Linked DNA regions of Homo sapiens: all the other regions are linked to region 4. Evidence: fine-mapped expression QTL. A gene starts in region 4. Each other region holds a variant in brackets. All regions are shown on one strand. Distances are between the middles of the regions. Region 1 has its middle 7.7 kb from the start of SRSF12. Region 2 holds the start of SRSF12 (serine and arginine rich splicing factor 12). Region 3 has its middle 33 kb from the start of PNRC1-DT. Region 4 holds the start of PNRC1 (proline rich nuclear receptor coactivator 1).

The links. PIP is the estimated chance that this variant, and not a neighbour inherited with it, causes the effect.
Region 1: its variant is fine-mapped to the expression of PNRC1 in whole blood (INTERVAL, PIP 0.97).
Region 2: its variant is fine-mapped to the expression of PNRC1 in whole blood (INTERVAL, PIP 0.97).
Region 3: its variant is fine-mapped to the expression of PNRC1 in whole blood (TOPMed, PIP above 0.99).

What each region holds. Positions count from the first base shown.
Region 1 is chr6:89,122,959-89,128,563 of GRCh38, reverse strand. It overlaps a transcript of PM20D2 not described here. Among named protein-coding and RNA genes, the nearest start is that of SRSF12, 7.7 kb to the right of the region's middle. RefSeq lists a silencer at 1-174 and an enhancer at 1-174. The variant C/T (reference allele first, on the strand shown) is at 3,152.
Region 2 is chr6:89,113,514-89,119,118 of GRCh38, reverse strand. It overlaps SRSF12 (serine and arginine rich splicing factor 12), which reads left to right and starts at 1,048. Exons shown (of 5, transcript NM_080743.5): 1 at 1,048-1,296. The coding sequence starts at 1,232. It also overlaps a transcript of PM20D2 not described here. RefSeq lists a silencer at 1,195-1,464. The variant A/G (reference allele first, on the strand shown) is at 3,472.
Region 3 is chr6:89,045,220-89,050,824 of GRCh38, reverse strand. No RefSeq gene overlaps it. Among named protein-coding and RNA genes, the nearest start is that of PNRC1-DT, 33 kb to the left of the region's middle. The variant A/G (reference allele first, on the strand shown) is at 3,213.
Region 4 is chr6:89,077,751-89,083,355 of GRCh38, reverse strand. It overlaps PNRC1 (proline rich nuclear receptor coactivator 1), which reads right to left and starts at 2,605. Exons shown (of 2, transcript NM_006813.3): 1 at 1,922-2,605. The coding sequence starts at 2,461. It overlaps PNRC1-DT (PNRC1 divergent transcript), which reads left to right and starts at 2,776. Exons shown (of 1, transcript NR_187250.1): 1 at 2,776-3,194. RefSeq lists enhancers at 932-1,892, 3,411-3,500 and silencers at 1,801-2,180, 2,571-2,720, 2,771-2,980.

The DNA.
Region 1 (5,605 bases), 45 kb before region 4:
ACAGGACAAAGGGCAAAAGCAGAACTACTGATAAGGGTCCAACAAAGATGACAAGGCAAAGGGCAAAAGCAGAACTACTGATAAGGGTCTATGTTCAGCAGTGCACATATTGTCTTGATAAACATCTTAAACAACAGAAAACAGGGTTTGAGAGCAGAGAACTGATCTGACCACAAATTTACCAGGGTGGAGTTTTCTCCCCACCCTAATAAGCCTGAGGGTACTGCAGGAGACCAGGGCGTATCTCAGTCCTTATCTCAACTGCATAAGACAGAGACTCCCAGAGCAGCCGTTTATAGACCTCCCTCCAGGAATGCATTCCTTTCCAAGGGTATTAATATTAATATTCTTTGCTAGGAAAAGAATTTAGCAATATCTCTCCTACTTGCATGTCCATTTATAGGCTCTCTGCAAGAAGAAAAATATGGCTCTTTTTGCCTGACCCAGCAGGCAGTCAGACCTTATGGTTATCTTCTCTTGTTCCCTAAAAATTGCTGTTATTCTGTTCTTTTTCAAGGTGCACTGATTTCATATTGTTCAAACACACGTTTTACAATCAATTTGTACAGTTAACACAATTATCACACTGGTCCTGACGTGATGTACATCCTTAGCTTACGAAGGTAACAGGATTAAGAGATTAAAGACAGGCATAAAAATTATAAAAGTATTATTTGGGAATTGATAAATGTCCATGAAATCTTCACAATTTATGTTCCTCTGCTGCGGCTCCAGCCGGTCCCTCCATTTGGGGGTCCCTGACTTCCCACAACAGGACTAAATGAATTTAAAATTTTATTTTAAATTTAAATAGTCCCATGTGTTTAGTGGCCACAGTATTGGACAGTGCAGATATAGAACACTTCCATTATTACAGAAAGTTCTATTAACCAATGCTGAGCTAGGCTAGACTCAGTGTTTTTGGAAGAGCATTTCAGCTAGGTGCAGTGGCTCTGGCCTGTAATCCCAGCACTTTGGGAGGCTGAGATGGGTGAATCACCTGAGGTCATGAGTTTGAGACTAGCCTGGGCAACATGGTGAAACTCCATCTCTACCAAAAATCAAAATTAGCCAGGCTTGGCGGCACATGCCTGTAATCCAAGCTATTCGGGAGGCTGAGGCAGGAGAACTGCTTGAACCCGGGAGGCAGAGGTTGCAGTGAGCCAAAATCACACCACTGCACTCCAGCCTGGGCAAGAGAGTGACACTCCGTCTCAAAAAAAAAAAAAAAAGCATTTCACAGGTACTGATGTGAACTTCCTTCAGAAGAGCATATAATGGATGTTTCTCTTTGTATTAATTTAGCAGTCATTTATGGCCATTGCCTGGACCCACTACTTCATTAGGGGTTGCAAAATTATGACATTATAATTCTATCATCTCCTCTTTATTTTATTGACTGGAATACTTTTAGAAAAACAAAACAAAACAAAACTTCCTTCATCAACCATTTGGGTTACCCTGAGGAATAAATTTATACAGGAAAGTTAGGATCCAAAGGTGACCAATTAGGGTTGTTTTTTAGTATAATTATGAACTTGTGCACTTAAAAATATTTGATATGTTTTAATTCATTGCAGTTATTGTTCTTATTGCTACTCAAATTGTCTTATCTCTAGCCAGGATTGTCTTTGGAATCCTTTTCACATGACCCCAGAAGCTTTTGATAACTTTTTTCTGATATGACAAGATATTTTAGGTTCATTGTGTACATTTTTCCCTCAAGCATGGAATCAGCCACACTTCCAAAAAGTCATTGTTTATTTTAAGACAAAATTATATTTAGGGAGTATGGTCTGGGCCATAAGGGGTGCCAAATGGTACTGGGCTGGTCATTGTTTCTAAGCCTTTTCAGTGGACAATGCTAATAACTCCTTTTTTTTTTTTTTTTTTTTAGATGGAGTCTCGTTCTGTCACCCAGGCTGGAGTGCAGTGGCGCAATCTCAGCTCACTGCAACCTCCAAGTTCAAGCAATTCTCTGCCACCCGAGTAGCTGGGATTATAGGCGCCTGCCACCATGCCCAGCTAATTTTTGTATTTTTAGTAGAGATGGGGTTTCACCATCTTGGCCAGGCTGGTCTTGAACTCTTGACCTTGTGATCCACCCGCCTCGGTCTCCCAAAGTGCTAGGATTACAGGCGTGAGCCACCATGCCAGGCCTTTTTTTTTTAAGACAGGTCTTTCTATGTCCCTCAGCCTGGAATGCCGTGGTGCAATCATGGCTCACTGCAGTCTTAACTTCACAGGCTCAAGTGATCCTCCCACCTCAGCCTCCCCAGTAGCTGGGACTACAGATGCGTGTCACCACACCTGGCTAACTTTTTAATTTTTTGTAGAGACGGGGTCTCACTTTGTTGCCCAGGTTGGTCTCCAACTTCTGGGCTCAAGCCATCCTCCTGCCTTGGCCTCCCAAAGTGCTGATACTACAGGCATGAGACACCATGCCCAGCCAAGAAATACTTTACTTTTTTTTTTTTTGAGACAGAGTTTCACTCTGTCGCCCCGGCTGCATTGTAGTGGCATGATCTCAGCTAACTGCAACCTCCACCTCCCAGGTTCAAGTGATTTTCCTGTCTCAGCCTCTCAAGTAGCTGGGGCTACAGGCACCCACCCCAATGCCCAACTAATTTTTGTATTTTTACTAGAGATGGGGTTTTGCCATGTTGGCCAGGCTGGTCTCGGACTCCTGACCTCAAGTGATCCGCCTGTCTGGGCCTCCCACAGTGCTGGGAATACAGGCATGAGCCACTGTGCCTGGCTGAGAATTTTTTTTTTTTTTTGAGACAGAGTTTTGCTGTTGTTGCCCAGGCTAGAGTGCAATGGTGCGACCTTGGCTCACTGCAACGTCCGCCTACTGGGCTCAAGAGACTCTCCTGCCTCAGCCTCCCGAGTAGCTGGGATTACAGGCACCCGCCACCACGCCCGGCTAATTTTTTTGTATTTTTAGTAGAGACGGGGTTTCACCATTTTGGTCAGGCTGGTCTTGAACTCTTGACCTCTGGTAATCCACCTGCCTTGGCCTCCCAAAGTTCTGAGGTTACAGGCATGAGCCACTGCACCCAGCTGAGAAATGGTTTTTTTTTTGAGACGGAGTCTCGCTCTGTCACCCAGGCTGGAGTGCAGTGGCGCGGTCTCGGCTCACTGCAACCTC[C/T]GCCTCCCAGGTTCACGCCATTCTCCTGCCTCAGTCTCCTGAGTAGCTGGGACTACAGGCGCCTGCCACCACACCCAGCTAATTTTTTGTATTTTTAGTAGAGACGGAGTTTCACCGTGTTAGCCAGGATGGTCTCGATCTCCTGACCTCGTGATCCGCCCACCTCGGCCTGCCAAAGTGCTGGGATTACAGGCGTGAGCTACCGCGCCCGGTGAGAAATACTTTTTAAAAGAGAAAATATATCACACACAAGACCCTTTTAACTGATCTGCTTGTACCAGTCTCTACTGTTCCAATTCATCCTCCACATTTTTGTCAGAATATCCTTATTAAACACAAATCTGATCTTAATCTCCTGCTTAAAAAATCTTGATGGGGCCAGGTACAGTGGGGTTACATACCTGTAACCCCAGCATTTTGGAAGGCTGAGGCAGGAGGATCACTTGAGGCCAGGAGTGTGAGACCAGCCTGGAAACATAGCAAGACCTACCTCTATAAAAAATTTAAAAATTAGCAGGGCATGGTGGTACACACTTGTAGCACCAGCAACTTGGGAAGCTGAAGTGGGAGGATTGCTTGAGTCCAGGAGGTTGGGGCTGCAGTGAGCCATGACTGCACCACTGCACTCCAGCCTGGGCAACAAAGCAAGACCCCGAATTGAAAAAAAAAAAAAAAACAACAACAGCAACAACAAAAACAACTTTGGCTCTAAATCTCCATTCCAATCTCTTTAGCATTCTTCCTTCCTTCTCCCCTAGTTCAGCAACACTACACTACTCTCACCACAAATGTCCCTTTGCTCATCGAGTTCACTTTGCTTTTTTTATTCCTGGGTGAATTTAATCCAATAAATAGCACAAACATTGATTTCCTCTAAAATAACTCCTAGTACTCCCCGCCAGAGAACTAATCTGTTTCCATTATATCCTCCATACTACTCCGAAATACCTTTATGTGGCACTAATGAAACAATATTATAATGACTTATTTACATACGTGTCTATCTCTAGCAAGAACGTCTCTCAAAAATTAAAGATACTCACCAGTGGTGGTACTATTTAGTTTTATATGTTACACTGATGAGACATTAAATGTGGAATTGCATAGTGTGAGAGTTAAAACTACAGGCACACACCACCATACCCAGCTACTTTGTTTTTATTTTTATTAGAGATGAGGTTTCGTATGTTGCCCAGACTAGGCCCTTTCCATATTTACATTAGGGAGAAAGTTTTAGTTTTGTGCCAGTATGTCTTCAACATCTCTATATTGAGTGATTAATTTCCCTTTTATAAGAGAGAGCAGGCTTGGAGCCTGCGCAGACAAAAGTAATCGGCTGGAATTTCCAACATGGTTTTGTTTATTATTATTATTTTGAGACATGATCTTGCTTTATTGCCCAGGCTAGAGTGCAGTGGCACGAACACAGCTCACTTCAGTCTCAACCTCCTGGACTCAAGTGATCCTCCCACCTCAGCCTCCAGAGTAGCTGGGACTACAGGCACACTCCACCATGCCCAACTAATTTGTTTTTATTTTTACTAGAGATGAGTTATCATATGTTGCCCAGACTAGTCTTGAACTCCTGGCCTCAATCATCCTGCCTCAGCCTCCCAAAGCACGGGGATTACAGGCATGAGCCATTGTGCCTGGCTCTCCTTCTGTCTATAAACCTTTTTTTTTTTTTTTTTTTGAGACAGTCTCACTCTGTTGCCTAGGCTGGAGTGCAGTGGCACGATCTCAGCTCACTGCAACCTCCACCTCTTGGGTTCATGAGATTCTTGTGCTCCAGCCTCCTGAGTAGCTGGGACTACAGGCACACACCACCATGCCCAGCTAATTTGTTTTTATTTTTATTAGAGATGAGGTATCGTATGTTGCCCAGACTAGTCTCAAACTCCTGCCCTTATGCAATCCTCCTGTCTCAGCCTCCCAAAGCACTGAGATTACAGGCATGAGCAACTGTGCCTGGCTCTCCTTCTGTCCATAAAACTTTAAAAATTAATATTGGTGATAGAGCTTTCTTTTTAAATAAAAGTGAGCTAATTTAAAGTAAACATATTATGGTAAAGAAGTACATCATTATGGCAAAAATCTCACAGGATGGATGAAAACGACTTAAGTTTGGGAAACAATGGACTAGGTCCTTGAGAATTAAGGAGCATAACTTCTATTTTCATCCCCAGTTCCTAGCACTGTGCTTCACATACAATAGATCAACACTAAGCAAATGGCAAATTAATTAGAAAGAAACACCCCCCCAAGATTTTCAATACCCAACATCATTTTAGGGAATATACAGGAAAAGTGACAGGCCTTCTAAGTTGACTTTTCTGAAAAAGTTAGTTTGATCCCTCCTAGTTACATTATTATCACACAAATGACCTTTTTAAAAACATGATTTCTTATGGCTATAGCAGAAGAGATCAAATTCATAAAAGGATACAATCATAG
Region 2 (5,605 bases), 36 kb before region 4:
GACCCAGGAACCTCCACAGCCTCTGGGAGGGCTGTGAGCTAGAAGGGTGACCACGACATGTATTCTTCAAAGCCTACCACTTCTGCGAGCGAAAAGGGGCACTCTTCACACTTAGGAGTTGCCTGGTTACACTCCCAGCCCTGAATAACAGGCTGTGCCTGCCGGCCACAGGAGCAAGGCGAAGACGAGTCTAACTAGAAGGGGATGGGCTACAACATTTTGGGGGAATAGGGAGAGGGTAATTTAAATTTTGCTTAACTGTCCCTGCATTTAAACTGTTGTCTTCTACATCATGTATTCATTTGTACATTCGTTTGTCCCCCCTCTAGAATGTAAGCTCAGAGGGCGGGGCTTGGCCTGTTTGTTCATTGCTATATCCCACGCTAAGTGCCTGGCGCATAGTAGACGCTCAATAAACATCTGAATGAATGTACTCACAGCTGAGTGTTATGCCCCAAGTGAATAAAGGATGAAGAATCATATAATACTTAAAAATCCAACAGGCCAGGCGCGGTGGCTCACACCTGTAATCCCAGCACTTTGGAAGGCCGAGGCGGGAGAGGCTTGAGCCCAGGAGTTTGAGACCACCTGGGCAACACAGCGAGACCCCGTCTCTATTAAAAAAACAAATCCGAACAAAACCGAGACCTCACAGTTGGAAAGCCGAAGGCTCAAGACCAGAGGGGCAGGAGGCCTACCAACTGCCAAGGTCCTGCGCTCAGGACGATGCGCTGAGGGCCGCGGAGGCTGAGCGGGGGCGCGGTTGAAAGCGGCTCTCACTGACCCCACCTCCGCCCAGCCGCAGCCCCGCCACCACCTCTGGGTCCTCTAACCCCCGGCGTCCCCGCCGCGGCCTCAAGCCCCCTCTTGGCCTCCGCCCTCCTGACATACACTGGCCCTCGCCGCCCCCTCCCCAAATCCCGTCGCACTCCAGGACCCCCCATACCCGGATCCCATAGGGCCTGGGAACGGCCGCGCTCCTGTCTTCGGAATTCCCGCGGCCCCTGGGCCGCGCCGGCGCCGCCCCCGCCCCCGGCCCGTGCGTCCAGGCTGGCGCCGCGCTGCGCCCCCTCTGCGCCGGCCTCTGCGGCTGCGCGCTGGCGGGGCTGAGGCCGAGGGGTGGGGGTCGCGCCGGGGGCCGGCGGAGCTCCTGTGGTGGTAGCAGCGGTAGCGGGAGACGGAGCGAGTCCAGCGGCCGCGGGCAGACCCGGAGGGAACGGAGGAAGCGGTCATGTCTCGCTACACGAGGCCCCCCAACACCTCCCTGTTCATCAGGAACGTCGCGGACGCCACCAGGTGAACGGCCGCGGCTGCAGGTTGGGGGCGCGGAGGAGGGGCGGGGTAACAGCCGCGCCGCGGAGCACGGCCGAGGCCCGGCGGAGGCTCGGGGGAGCTGCGCGGAGCCTCCCCGCGGGCCCAGGCTGCGCCACTTGGGGAGGTGTGAGCCCTCGGACTACTCCGCGGCCCAGGGCGGAACTCGCGCCTCCGCCCTCCCGGCCAGCTTTCAGCCCCGGCGCCGCGCACATCGTGTCCCGGGCCCGCGTCGCTTTCCGCGGTTCAGCACCGCAGCCGGCGGGCCGTGGGACACGGGGCGCCCCTCTCCCGAGCTCAGGTCGCTCCCCGCCGGGAGTCGGGAGGGTTTGCGCTCCAGCGAGTGCCCGCGTTTCAGCTCCTTTGTCGCCGTGCCCCGATAAAATCGCGCGCATCCAACCCTCCTAGATGGAGAGGAATTGGGGCTGGTGAGAACGTTTTGTACCATAATGCGTACTCGGGCCTTACAGTTTCTTTCCCCCAGTTCTGGTCTACTTACAGACGGTGCTGCTTGCATTTTATTCACACAATTTTATTCTGCATACAAAAAATAACTTCAATGAATGAGATCAGTGCGTTTTTCTTTAAAGTTCTGAGTCCAGTATTAACACCCTTTTTAAGGGCGTGAGTATAGGCTCACCTGGTTGATTCTGATGCCCCACCCCTCCGTTGAGAATTTTGTCTACAGAGTGTCTGAACACAGATACTAAGGAATGACTTTTTCATATAGCACTTCCTTCCTTAATGGAGCTGAAGAAATTGGGGGCGGGGGGAGAGGGAACGGTGTTAATAGACATTCTCATTTCACTGGGCTTCATTTACTTCCCCCCAGCCTTTCTACCTATGCAGTACTGTTTTATTGTACATAAGGGAGAGCGGAAACTAAGAGTTTTAATGATTTACCTGGGGCCAGAGAGGTATAGATACATGGAGCTCTTGACTCCATAGTCATCTGAGATGAGTATTATAATTTACCTTTGAGGAGTAAATAAACGTTAAGTATTTTTTATTTTTTAGTTTTTTTTTTTTTTTTAGACAAAGTCTCGCTCTTGTCCCCCAGGCTGGAGTACAATGGCCCGATCTTGGTTGGCTGCAACCTCTGCCTCCCGGGTTCAAGCGATTCTCCTGCCTCAGCATCCAAAGTAGATGGGATTACAGGCGTGTGCCACCACACCCGGCTAATTTTTATATTTTTAGTAGAGATGAGGTTTCATTATGTTGGCCAGGCTGATCTCCAACTCCTGACCTCAAGTGATCCGCCCAGCTCGGCCTCCCAAAGCGCTGAGATTACAGGCATGAGCCACCGTGCCCGGCCAAGTATTTTTTATTTGATCACCGCAAGTACATGTATCACAACTATATGTTGTGGTTAATATATCTTAGTTAACATCTAAAAGGTGCCTTGTTTACATTTCTTCTGTCAGCCTTTTTATCAATATATTACATAGAAAACACGAACATAATTTATGATTTGGGCAGAATTAAAAAACCTTGCAGTTGAACAGACAACTTGAAAATGGAATAAGCATCAAGCCTCTTCAGGGTGTCTGTAGAAAAATCAGAGGTTTCCAATTCTAATGGTTCACAGGGGCCAGCCGGGGTAATATAAACGAGTGAAGCTGCCAGCCTATAAGGCACAGTAGGATGGTGTGGACTATCAAATAGAAATAGAATAGCAAATAGAAAAGGAAATATGCCATCTAAAAGGTGCAGCATCTGCCTCTAGGCTCCAGCTGACAGCTGCCATGTAGACATCTGGACTTATTGTTGATATATCTTACTAGTTGTAAAGAGAAATCAGAAATCTGGATTTTGTATGTGTAATCTTAGTCTTTAGATGCATTAAGTTGAATCATATGAAAATCCCATTCGTGGCCGGGTGCGGTGGCTCATGCCTGTAATCACAGCACTTTGGGAGGCTGAGGCAGGCGGATCACGAGGTCAGGAGATGGAAACCATCCTGGCTAGCACGATGAAACCCCGTCTCTACTAAAAATAAAAAAATTAGACGGGCGTGGTGGCGGGTGCCTGTAGTCCCAGCTGCTCAGGAGGCTGAGGCAGGATAATGGTGTGAACCCGGGAGGCGGAGCTTGCAGTGAGCCAACATCGCGCCACTGCACTCCAGCCTGGGAGACAGAGCGAGGACTCCGTCTCAAAAAA[A/G]AAAAAAAAAAAAAAAGAAAGAAAAAAGAAAACCCCATTTGTAGATTTGAAAGCTGTAAAATATAAGGCTGGGCGCGGTGGCTCACGCCTGTAATCCCAGCACTTTAGGAGACCGAGTTCGGCGGATCACTTGAGGTGAGGGGTTCGAGACCAACCTGGCCTACCTGGTGAAACCCCGTCTGTACTAAAACACAAAAATTAGCCAGGTGTGGTGGCTGGCGCCTGTAATCCCAGCTACTCAGGAGACTGAGGCACGAGAATCGCTTGAACCCCAGAGGTGGAGGTTGGCAGTGAGCCGAGATCAGGCCACTGCACTCCAGCCTGGGCGACAGAGTGAGACTCTGTCTCAAAAAATAAATAAATAAAAGAAAGCTATAAAATGTAGCCTGGTGTATGACACCTGTAGTCCCAATTACTGGGAAAGCTGAGGTGGGAGCCCGGGAGGTCACTTGAGCCCGGGAGGTCAAGGTTACAGTGAACGATGATCACATCACTGTACTCCAGCCTGGGTGACAGAGAGACCTTTAGAGAGTCTAAAAAAATAAAAGCTGTGGCCGGGCGTGGTGGCTCACGCCTATAATCCCAGCACTTTGGGAGGCCGAGGTGGGCAGATCACGAAATTAGGAGTTTGAGACCAGCCTGGCCAACATGGTAAAACACCGTCTCTACTAAAGATACAAAAAATTCACCAGGCATGGTGGTGCGTGCCTGTGATCCCAGCTACTCGGGAGGCGGAGACAGGAGAATCGCTTGAACCCGGGAGGTGGAGGTTGCAGTGAGCCGAGATAGTACCATTGCACTCCAGCCTGGGCGACAGGGCGAGACTCTGTCTCAAAAACTAAAAAAATAAAAGCAGTAAAATATTGGCAATTTCATATTTATACGCATTTTAAAAATGTTTAAACGTCATGCAGGCCAAATAAAACACATCTGCAGGTGACACCTGATCTCTGATCTATGTACTTCATTCACCAGTGAGTGATTGAGACTGATAGTTGAGATTGACTGATTTCCTTTTCCATTTTTTCACTTTTTTTTTTTTTTAGCTTTGCCACTGGCAGACAATCAAAATCTACAAGATTATATTACATGAATGAAATCTCTAACATTTGTTGAATACTCACTGTGTACTAGGTGCCATACTAAAAACATTACATATATTAAATTTTCGCAGTAACCCTATAATGTATGGTGGTTTTTTTGTTTGTTTGTTTTATTTTGAGACAGAGTCTTGCTGTGTCAGCCAGGCTGGAGTGCAGTGGCACGATCTCGGCTCACTGCAACCTCCGCCTCCTGGGCTCAAGCAGTTCTCCTGCCTCAGCCTCCCGAGTAGCTGGGATTACAGATGTGTGCCACCATGCCTGGCTAATTTTTGTATTTTTAGTAGAGACGGGGTTTCATCATGTTGGCCAGGCTGGTCTCGAACTCTTGATGTCAGGTAATCCGCCCACCTTGGCCTCCCAAAGCACTGGGATTACAGGCATGAGCCACTGCGCCTGGCCGTATGTTCTTTGTTAACCCCATTTTACCGATGAGAAATCAACGTTTAGGTTAAGTATTTTGCCTAAGATCGAATAGCAGGTGAGTGATGATATGAAATTAGAATCATCACATGTAATCTGTATTAACCTTTTAGTACAAAGTAGTATACAGTATAAGTTAACTAGCAATGTGACATGTAGACACTTTTAAAATTAGCTTTAAAGATAGGGCACAGTGGCTCATGCCTGTAATCCCAGCACATTTGGAGGCTGAGGTGGGTAGATCACTTAAGCTCAGGAGTTTGAAACCAGCCAGGGAAACATAGCAAAACCCTGTCTCACCAAAAAATACAAAAATTAGCCAGGTGTGGTAGTGCGCACCTGTAGTTCAGCTATTTGAGAGGCTGACGTGGGAGGATCGCCTGAGCCCAGGTGGTCGAGGCTGCAGTGAGTCAAGATGGCACCACTGCACTCCGGGGGTGAGAGTGAGACTCTGTCTCAAAAATAAATAAATAAATAGGCTTTAACATTTAGTATGCTTATAAACAAAATCTTTGGGGCCTGGCACGGTGGCTCACATCTATAATCCCAGCACTTTGGGAGGCCGAGGCACGTGGATCACTTGAGGTCAGGAGTTCGAGATGAGCCTGGCT
Region 3 (5,605 bases), 33 kb after region 4:
TATGTCACCAACTTTTCCCCTTCTGAGAGCCAGCTCCTTCCACACACACCCAGCAGGCTGAGCTTCATTGTTTCTTCTTCAGCCTGGGCACTGAGACATGTTTGTTCATTAATGTACCTGAGCTTCTTAAGCTGTTGTCTCTCCTTCCTGAGAATGCATGATGTGTTTTCTTTTCCTCAACACCCCACTTTCTTGGGGTTTTGGTTTGTTTGTTTTTAGAAACAGGGTGTTGCTATGTTGCCCAGGCTGGTCTCAAACTCCTGGGCTCAAGCAATCCTCCCTTCTTGGTCTCCCAAAATGCTAGGATTTCAAGTGTCAATCCTTTTCTAGGATGTCTAGTCCACTTGCTTTTACCCAGGACAAACATACTCCCTCAGGGACTCACCTCTATCCAGTTTTCCTGCGCAAGGCTGCCAGCTGTTTCATACATTACTGGAAAATTGTGCAATTCTAAGCAAAGAGGCTGGAGGCTGGGATTCTGTGCCAATATTAGAATCTGGGGTTCCCGGAGGGCTGAGGGCTGTGTTGCAGAGAAGATTGTTGTCATTGTTGCAGCAACTATTGCTCTAGGACAGCAGTTTCAGAACGTGGTCAGAGAAACCCTGGGATCTCTGAGGTCCTCCCTTTTCCAATCACCTATCTGTATAAGGTCAGATTTCAACCAAAACACATCTCAATAGATTGAATGCAGATGTAGGTATGAGAATCCAGCTCCCTTCTGTCAAGAGATTTGCAAAAAATTAAAATTTTTGTTTTAATTTTAATACAATAAATATTGACATAACCCATGTAAAGAAAATGCCTTGGAGTCCCCAACAATTTCTAAAAGTTGTAAGGGGGTTCTGAGATTGAAAGTTTGAGAACTGCTACTCTAAGCTACTCTTGGCCCCACTTTGTTCTTCCCGCTCATCTTGAGGGACCTCATAAGACTCATTGCTTCAACTACCACGTCCAAGTTGGTGATTGTTGTGGGCAGTACATAAGCTTCTGCGTGCTGTTCTGCAAGCACCTGGGGATAAGGGAAATAAGATTGCCCCTGAGAATTGAACTGGATAAATCCATACACAGCAGATATGACCCACCATTCATGCATTCAACAAATATTTATTGAGCACGTACTCTGTGCCATACACTCTTCCAAACACTGGGCTTACAAAACAGAAAATCCCTGAACATCCTACTGGGGTATACTGAGAGACGATAAAAGAGTATAATGGGGTCCGGTTTGGTGGCTCATGCCTGTATTCTCAGCACTTTGGGAGGCTGAGATGGGAGGATTGCTTGGGGCCAGGAGTATAACACTATCCTGGGCAACAGAGTGAGACCCTGTCTACAAAAAATTTAGGAAAAAAAGAAAAAGAAATCAAAGTAATGTGACAAGAACTGTATGTATGCGTGAGTTTGTGTGTATATGCCTGTATTTTCTTTCTTTCTTCCATAAATTATTCCCCAATAGCCATTCTGCTAGTAGCCCTCCTGGGAAGTGGTGTTTACAAATTTCATCTTGGTAAGGAGGCAGATATGATGTAAGACAAGTTCCAGCCATGGAGGTGGGGTAAGGAAGAGAGCAAGGAGAGCAGATCTTAGGATTGGCAGCTCAGGGACAAGAGCACAGCAGCATCTTTGCAGCACAGGTTGGCAACCATCCAGAGGAGAAAAGCATGGGCTATGAGCCACCATGAAGTCACTTAAGCACCACCCTTCAAACACCATCTTAAAGGATGAAAAGACAAAGGGAGAGAAACAGCTCTAATGGGGAGTTATTGGCTGGAATGAGAACTTAAGTCCGAAGAATGAGATACTTTTATTGGTAATTTTAAGTTCCATTTCAAACATTTTATTTGCATGTCTGAGATGTAGTGTGATAAAATTTCAATCTGGCTGCATTAACGTTTTACTGCTGCTGGACTGTATCTGAAGCCTTGAGGCAGGGAACTCAGGCAAAAATGGCTCTATTAGACTCTTCCTTCCCATTCAATCTAAACCCAAGTGTTACCACCCAGATGACCACATGGGAGAAAGGAGACTGAAAAGAAGACCCCAGGAGGCAATGAAAACAGGATGCAGGTCTTTTTCTCCTGAAGGAAACAGTTCCCATCCTCTTTGCCACTTAGGCTACCTGGAAGGGAAAAGCAGAAGAGTGAAGAACTGGTCACTGATCACATGCAGCCTGCATTCAAGAAAGAAGACAGGGCTAGAGAGGGAAATAAAGGGCGGGTCTTTTTCTGAGGGTGCCAGAAAATTCTGGCCTTCCGAGAAGATGAAGAAAGACAACCCCTCTCATGTGGCCCAATCAGTGTCCCTGGAATGACTCATCAGATTAGGGGCTCCTTCTTGGAGTGGGAATGAAGATAAGGATCAAGGAGGAAACTGGATGAATGCCTCTCCCATCATACCCAAACTCACAGCATCCCTAAAAGGCGTTTTAAATGGAGAAATTGAGACTCAAGGTAGAGAAAATAAAGTGAAGTCATACTCTAGGAGCAGAGCCAGGTTTTGAACCCAGATTTGACTTGTTGCAAAGTATAGCCAGTTCTTGCCAAACCCCAAGCTTCCCCACTCCCACTCCCCATCAGAACCTGTTTGGTTTTTTTGAGACAGTCTCGCTCTATCACTTAGGCTGGAGTGCAGTGGTGGGATCACAACTCACTGCAGCCTCGAACTCCCAGGCTCAAGCGATCCTCTCACTTCAGCCTCTTAGGTAGCTGGGACTACAGGTACATGCCACCACACCCAGCTAATTTTTTTATTTTTTGTGGAGATGGGGTCTCGCCTTGTTGCCCAGGCTGGTCTTGAACTCCTGAGCTCCAGCGATCTGCCCACCTCAACCTCCCAAAGTATTAACGATTACAGGCGTGAGCCACCTGGCCCAGCCCAGAACCTGTTTTATTTAGTGGAGGCAATCTTTCTTGCATCTTGCAGTCTTGTGTCTTTTCCTACCCTGGGATATAAGGTGAAATTCCTTGTCTAGAAGAACCACGGCTGTAGCAATTATTCATCCATCCAGCAAATATTTATTGAGCGTGAGGGGTGAGGTCTGTCCTCAGTTCTGGGTCATGAAATCACTTTTATGATTATTTCAGTTTCCTGAAATGTGATAAGCAGCTAAATGGATCCAGCCATAGGAGGAGAACTGATTGAAAAGTGAGGAAGTAGAGGATGAGAGGACAAAGACCAACATTTAAAAGCCCTAAAGTAGCTGAGGTTCCTCA[A/G]TGAGGGTAGGACAGGAACTGTGTTGTTTACACAAAATGAGATGGTGTCAGTGAAGCTTTTCTTGGGGGTGGGGGAGAGTGTGTGCACATACTCCGTTTTTCCCTGATCGTTTTCTGTGCTGATGGAATCCTGTTCCATGGATAGATTGTGCTTTTATTTTTAAATTCATTTTTTGAAGCTGATTGGCAGTTTGTAATCTTTCCAGCCTTTTCCTGAGCAATTCTAATCACCTTTCAACTTTTTTTGAGGTACCATACAAAGCAATCTAATTGTTGACATAAACCAATGTTGGCTATACGATTAACCCTAGCACAGAGTTGATTTATCTACTCTGGTTTATCCTTAGCAAAATTTAAATCCCAAACCTACAACAGTTTCAAACTACTCTCCTTCAGCCTTCTATTAATGTAAGTTCGGGTAGTACTAACTTAAATGTAGTTTGCATGATAAATCTGTTCTCTAAGATTACATGTTTTCCAAACCAAGTATGCTTAACTTTTAGATCATCTAGGAGAAAATAGAGCACAATAATAAATAGCAGGGGCCCCGAACTTCACCGTCTAGTTGAAGCCCCAGTGACTGCATTTATTAGCTCTGTGACCTCGGCAGAAGCATTGAACTTTTCTCTGCTTTTTCTTATATATAAAATGGGGATAATAAACAGCTTCTTTTCCAGAGTTGAGAGGGGAATCAATGAGTCAGTACTACTCAGTAGGAAATAAATGTAACTTAGTAAATGTCAGTTTATTTTTTATTTATTAATTTTTTTTCAGGCCAAGCATGGTGGCTGTAATGCCAGCACTTTGGGAGGCCAAGGTGGGTGGATCGCTTGAGACCAGGAATTCAAGACCAGCCTGGGCAACATACTGAGACCCTGTTTCTATTTTTAAAAAATTTATGAAAAAATTAAAATAATTTTTTTCTTTCTCTTTTTTTTTTTTTTTTTTTGAGACAGGGTCTTGCTCTGTAGCCCAGGTTGGAGTGCAGTGGCATGATCACGGCTGACTACAGCCTCGACCTCCTGGGCTTTAGTGATCCTCCCACCTCAGCCTCTCGAATAGCTGAGACTACAGGCATGAGCTGCCGTGCCCAGCCTAATGCCGGTTTTCACCATTATTAGTTTTTAAGTTTCTTTCCCTCTGTTGCCTTCTTTTTGAACAATTAAAGCCATTTATTTCGTTTAAAAAAACCTGATTAAAGAACTAATACTTATTGATTCTCTATTAATTATTGGTGAAAGATGCAGAGCAGACATAAAAAGACTAAACAATAAAAACTACCCCTTAATCCTAGGCCTAAGAAATATAACCACTTTTAAAACAACTTTCAAGAAATCTGGCCGGGCATGGTGGCTCATGCCTGTAATCCCAGCACTTTGGGACGCCAAGGTGGGCTGATCACTTGAGGTCAGGAGTTCGAAACCAGCCTGGCCAATGTGGCAAAACCCTGTCTCTACCAAAAATACAAAAATTAGCCGGGCGTGGTGGCAGGCGCCTGTAATCCCAGCTACTCAGGAGGCTGAGGCAGGAGAATCGCTTGAACCTGGGAGACAGAGGTTGCAGTGAGCTGAGATCGCACCACTGTGCACTCCAGCCTGGGTGACAGAGTGAGATTCTGTCAAAAAAAAAAAAAAAGAAAAAAAAGAAAATAAATCTATTTACTAGACTTTCTAAGAAATGTCTGAAATGTTGATTATTTGACTTACAGAAAGAAAAAACATTTGTACCAATGTGCTATTTCTCTCCTCTCGACTGTTTCGGTAGGAATTTGTGTATGAGTAAACAAATTTCTAGTCATCACATAAAATTTTCTTTGCCAAGAAAGATTAATGAATCATCCTCAGTATCCACTCTTGTCTCCTCTGACACAGCCTCAGAGGAACCCACCATCATACTTTTCCATCTCCATGGCTTCACGTCCTCATTTGAAGAACAGGGACAGCGAGAACTTGATGGCACTTCTGGTCCATGTTTCTCACACAGGGACACAAAAGCCTAGGAAGAAGCCGTAATTGCTGGAGCTGGGATTAGAGGCCAATACACTTCCCCCACCTTTTTTTTTTTTTTTTGAGATAGAGTCTTGCTCTGTCACTCAGGCTGGAGTGCAATGGTGTGATCTTAGCTCACTGCAACCTCTGCCTCCTGGGTCAAGTGATTCTCCTGCCTCAGCCTCCCGAGTAGCTGGGATTACAGGCATGAGCCATCACACCTGGCTAATTTTTGAATTTTTAGTAGAAACAGTGTTTCACCATGTTGGCCAGGCTGGTCTTGAACTCCTGACCTCAAGTGATCTGCCCTCCTGGGTCTCCCAAAGTACTGGGATTACAGGCTGAGCCACTGCGCCCAGCCAGGCCAGTCTGCTTCCCACCACACTGTGCAACCGTGCCAGGCTG
Region 4 (5,605 bases):
TAGCAAACCTGCACAAGTACCTCCTTGATCTAAAATAAAAGCTGAAAATTACAAAAACTTTAATTGGGCATGGTGGCTCACGCCTGTAATCCCAGCACTTTGGGAGGTCAAGGCAAGCAGATCGCTCAAGCTCAAGGAGTTCGAGACCAGCCTGGGCAACATAGCGAAACCCCATGTCTACTACAAATATAAAAATCAGCCCGGCGTGGTAACACGCGCCTCGGGAGGCTGGCTGAGGCGGGATCCCTTCAGCCTGGGAAGGGGAGGATGCAGTGAGCAGAGATCGATCGTGCCACTGCATTCCAGCCTGGAGTGCGATAGAGGCAGACTCTGTCTCAAGAAAAAAAAAACAACAAAAAACTTAAATTTCCCTTGACTTTTAAGTTCACTCTTGTTCGCCACTAAAAATGCAGTTAATCACCACTGCTAGTTACCAGTATGCAACGTGAACCAGTTCTAAAATGTCAAACTAAAAAAAGTCTGAAATAACCCAAGTCCACCTTTCTACAACTGTAAGGAAGACTAATGAGCTCTCTTCCAAATACGAGTGCCAGAAACAATCTTTGCTGTGTACCTCCTTTCTGGTTTAGTAACTGCTTCAAGAACGCTGCTTCACTCACCTTAATCTTTCCCAACTTAAGTGGGCCTTATAGGAAGTCTTGAAAGGATGGAAAAGCGTAAGGTAATCCACTAGATCACTGCACTACCAACACTTGTAACGCGGTAGTAAGCAAGACACGACACGAAAGAGGACCACAACTTTCCACGTCAATAAGGTTCACTGCCAGAGCTCCCTAGTTAGTACCTGTTCTAGAAAACAGGCCAGGAAACAAGCACAAAAGCTTTTAGGTAATCACGGATATTTCAAAAGTCGTGGAATTTTAAAAGGGAGACATTGAGACGATAATTTAAAGAAACAAGGTGGGCAAATTTTTTCCCAAGGGCACAGATAAACCGCAAATCTCTAATTCAATGCAACATTCTTCACTAAATAACGGGAACTTTTTCATTTCATTATTACGAAGATTAAGTCATTGAACTTAAGTCCATAAAACGTTATTCTGACAAGACTTTGAAATCATTTCGTAGACTTAATCCTATTTAAACTTCTATCCATTTTATCCTAATGCAATAGCACTGCAATCAGACGGGCTAAGTCAATTCAATTGCTAACTCTTCTGAAAACTTACTCTGGACACACTAACACGAAGTACCACAGTGGCAAAAGTAATAAAATCAGTTTTGTGCGGCTCCTGCCAACTCTTAACTTGGAACCACTAAGTAGGTCAGGCCCGAGGCGGGCAGAGCCCCAACTGGACTGCGCGTCCCACACCGGGCACCTCACATTTTGGCACAACTCCAACCAAACGAAACCCAGCCGCTCGGAGCCCACTCCACCCCCTACGGCGGGACGTTAGAGGCCGTCTCCGCGTTTCACCGACTAGGACTGGGGCTCCCGATAGCCGGGAGGCCGAAAGCCGGGCCCAGTCCTTCCCCAGCTGCCCCCACCCGGCCTCGCCTCCTTCATGGGCGCCGGAGCGCCGGGCACGTAGCGCGCGCTGACGTCAGCCCTCCCGCGGGCCCTGTCCCTGCCCCCACCCCGCCGCGCGCCCGGAACGCCGAAACCCCCTGGAACGCCGCCAGCCTTCTAAATCGGGGCTGTTGCTGGGGCGCAGCGGCGCTTCTCATTGGCCGACTCCTGGGAGCCAATCAGAAGCGCCAGCGCATGCCTCCCCTTCCCCCTTCTTCCCCCAAAGCAAGAATGGAGCGGGCGTCACGGAAACTTCCCTCCCGAGTAAACAGCCGCCCCCCCCACCCCGCCCCCACCCGCCCGACCCCCCGGGTGCAGGGTCTGCAGCCCCAGAGCTCGGCCGCGACCGTCTAAGGGCCCGACTCCCCAACGGCCCCCTGGCGGCCTCACCTCTTTCCTGAGGGGGGTTTGGCCGGGAGCCGCGGGCCGCAGCGGGGCAAGGTCGGGGCTGGCTCCCTCCGTGCCGGCTGCGGCTGCAGGACTCGGGGCCAAGGCGGCGGCCGGGCCCGGGACCTCCTGCGCTCCGCTCGGGCCGGTCGCGGGGCTCCGGCCGCCCTCCAGACTCGGCCGGTGCTGCTGGTACTGGTGGAAGCGGCTGGGCAGCTGCCCTGCGGGGCTGGCCCGCACCTTCTTCTTTCGCCGCTTCTTCGGCGCTGCCCGAGGAGTGCCTCCCGCCACGGCGAGGCTGCGGTTGGGCAGAGCTGCTGGAGCGCGAGGCTGGGGGGTCAGACACGGGCCATCTCCCCCTAGGAAATGAGGGAGGAAGAGGGTCGGGGGCAGTGCCCGGGGGTCCGGGATCCGGGGTAAAGGAGGCGGAGCCGTGGTCACCATCGGGAGGGCCCCAAAGTAACCTCGGGAGGAAAAGCCAAGCGGCGCAAGGCGGCCACCCAGGACGAGCGGCTCCCGCTGCGGGACGGAGACGACAGTCATAGCGCTAGGAAGCTTGTCGCTCAGCAACGAAGAGAGAAGGAGAAGGTGAATGAAGCCAGTGAAGATAGGGTGGCGGCGATGGATGCTGCTAGGAGAGCCTGAGAAGATCGCGGAACATGACTCGGGCGGTGGCGGCGCAGCAACAAATAGCCACAGCCCCAGCTCCGAGTGTTGTTATCGGAAGCTCCGCCCCGCGCCCGCCCACTTTCCTGCGAAAGCCCAATTAGAGTGCGACAAGGCAGGCCACGCCCCCTCGCTCCGCCTCCGCAGCTTCGGGTAGACACACACAAACAACCAGCTTGCTGCAGCCTGGCACAAAGAGGGCGCACTGCGCAGGCGCTGCCAGCGAGCTCTTTTGGGAAGAATCGGTCCCGCGAACAATGAAATTGGGTTTCCGCCCCACCCTCTTTACTCCTCCCCAGCACGCCCCTGCGCTTCGCCGGGCTAGGGAGTGGTGGTACTGAAATGTCCCGGCGGAGTTTGTTGATGGGGGTGGGGAAGGGAGGGGGCAGGGGGAGGGCGGCAGGAAGAACGGGGGCTGGGAAGAGGGGATGACTTTGGCAAGGCCACGGTTGCCTCCTCCGCTGCTGACCTTGGGGAAGTATCCGTTTTATTTTCAGCCCAACATAACAGCGTTATCATTTTAAAACAAAGATTTCTAAGTACGCTGTAAGGATTTCTTCCCTAGCAATCGTGAAGAAAATCAGTCTACATTTAAATTTTATCTACTGAAGTATGGCTCACGATTCTTTCATTTACTTGGTTCGGCATCGCTGCTTATTAGTCTCGGTGATCAGAGTAAAAATCAAAGTGACTTACTGATTGAATTAGCCCCTCGATGTATAAAAAGTTCTCCGTAAATCCATAAATGGAAGTTGGAGTTTTTACTGATTTCATACTTGAAGGATTGTGAGACTTTGGGATCAGAACATTGTGCCTGGTTACTTGAGGAGGCGGCAAGCCGGCTTGCGTCTCAAAGGGAGAAAGTGAAACAGCTCTGCAACATAGAGTATTTTGTTAGCTGCGCGTAAATAGAAATTTTTCGCGATCTCCCCGCACTGCTCAACCACAAAAAAGAATTGTGGCCATAATTTATCAAGCATTTATGTTCCAGGAACTGTTCTTTACATAGATTGTCTCACTTTAACCTCACAACAACCCTTACGAATAGGTACTAAGAAAAATAGATCAGACCTCAGCTCTGCGAAGTAGGCAGGCTGTCATTCTCTTCCTTTCACTACTAATGCCTGGGGCAATTGTTTAAAGGCATTTTGTTCCTGATTAGCTGCCTACGCATTATCTTTAAGTTTCTGAAATTTAAGATACAAAGAACAATGTATAGCTAGTCAAGAGCCCACGATATTTTAATGTAAATTGGTAAACAATTTAGGAGCTGCCTCTTTTCCTTTAAAAACCTACTTGTAACTTGCTAATCCGAGTGTATATTCAGGGCAGCTTGAATCTATGGTCCTGGGTTGCAGTCCTCAAGCTTGGCCTGATTTTGCCTCAGCTTCTTTTTGGAGGGACAGTACTGTATTTTATTCCCATTTTACAGCTGGGGAAACAGGCTTAGAAAGGCTAAAGGACTTGTCAAAGATCAAACGGTAAGTTAACATCAGAATTTGATCTCCAGTCCAGGTACTGCAAGACAAAAGTTTTAATTTTTTTTTTTTTTTTTTTGAGACGGCGTGTCACTCTGTGGCCAGGCTGCAGTGCAGTGGCGCCATCTCGGCTTACTGCAACCTCCGTCTCCCTGGTTCAAGAGATTCTCCTGCCTCAGCCTCCCTAGTAGCTGGGATTACAGGCACCCGCCACGCCCAGCTAATTTCTGTATTTTTTAGTAGAGACGGGGTTTCACCTTGTTGGCCAGGATGGTCTTGATCTCCTGACCTCGTGATCCGCCTGCCTCGGCCTTCCAAAGTGCTGGGATTACAGGCGTGAGCCACCGCGTCCAGCCCTGCCACACTAGATTCTACATTATTAGAAGACCACAGTAATCTTACACTTCTGTATCCTCACCGCCTCTACAATAGTTTTCAGCTTTGGAGTAGTAAGCAATTAGTAAGCAATGAAACGTTTTATGATTGATGGCAAAGTTGGACAGATTGCATATCCAGAAAAATGCTTCCCAATCACTTTATAAACTTTTTTTTTTTTTTAGACGGGGTTTCTTTCTGACACTCAGATTGGAGTGCAATGGCATGATCTCGGATTACAGCAACAGCCGCCTCCCAGGCTCAAGAGATCCTCCAACCCCAGCCCCCCACGCCCCTGAGTAGCTGGGACCACAGGCACACACCACCACTCCTGGCTAATTTTTTGTGTTTTTAGTGGAGACAGGGTTTCACCATGTTGCCCAGGCCGGTCTCAAACTCCTGAGCTCAAGCCATCTGCCTGTCTCAGCCTCCCAAAGTGATGGGATTACAGGAGTGAGCCACCAAACCCAGTCAACCTTATAAGCTTTTAAAACTACATTTCAGGCCAGGCGTGGTGGCTCACACCTGTAATCCTAGCACTTTGGGAGGCCGAGGCGGCTGGATTACCTAAGGTCAGGAGTTTGAGACCAGCCTGGCCAACATGGCGAAACCCTGTCTCTACTAAAAATATAAAAATTAGCTGGGCATACAGGCTAATGTGCCTGTAATCCCAGCTACTAGGGGGGCTGAGGCAGGAGGATCGTTTAAACCTGGGAGGTAGAGGTTGCAGTGAGCCGAGATCATGCCACTGCACTCCAGCCTGGGCAACAGAGCAATACTCCATCTCAAAAAACAAAAAAGAAACCAAAAAAACTCCATTTCATTCCAATTGCTGAATTTTACTCATTTTTGTTTCTGCAACATGTAATGCATAGTAAGTGCTCATGTTCATTGGATGGATGGGAATCATGGACATCCAGAGCTGTAAAAGAATCTACTTTTTCAAAGCACTTTCCATCTGTCATCTCATTTTATTCTTACTCTAGCACTTTAAGGTTGATATAGAGAGGTCCTATTTAACGTATGGTGTAAATAAATTTAAATATATAGTAACTTGCTTGGGGGGGGGGGTTCACAAAATGAGGTAGGAATAACTCGAACTCCTGATGCCTAGTCCAGTGTTCTTTTCACTATATCCCATGATTTTAGGCTTGACTTTATCTGGGGA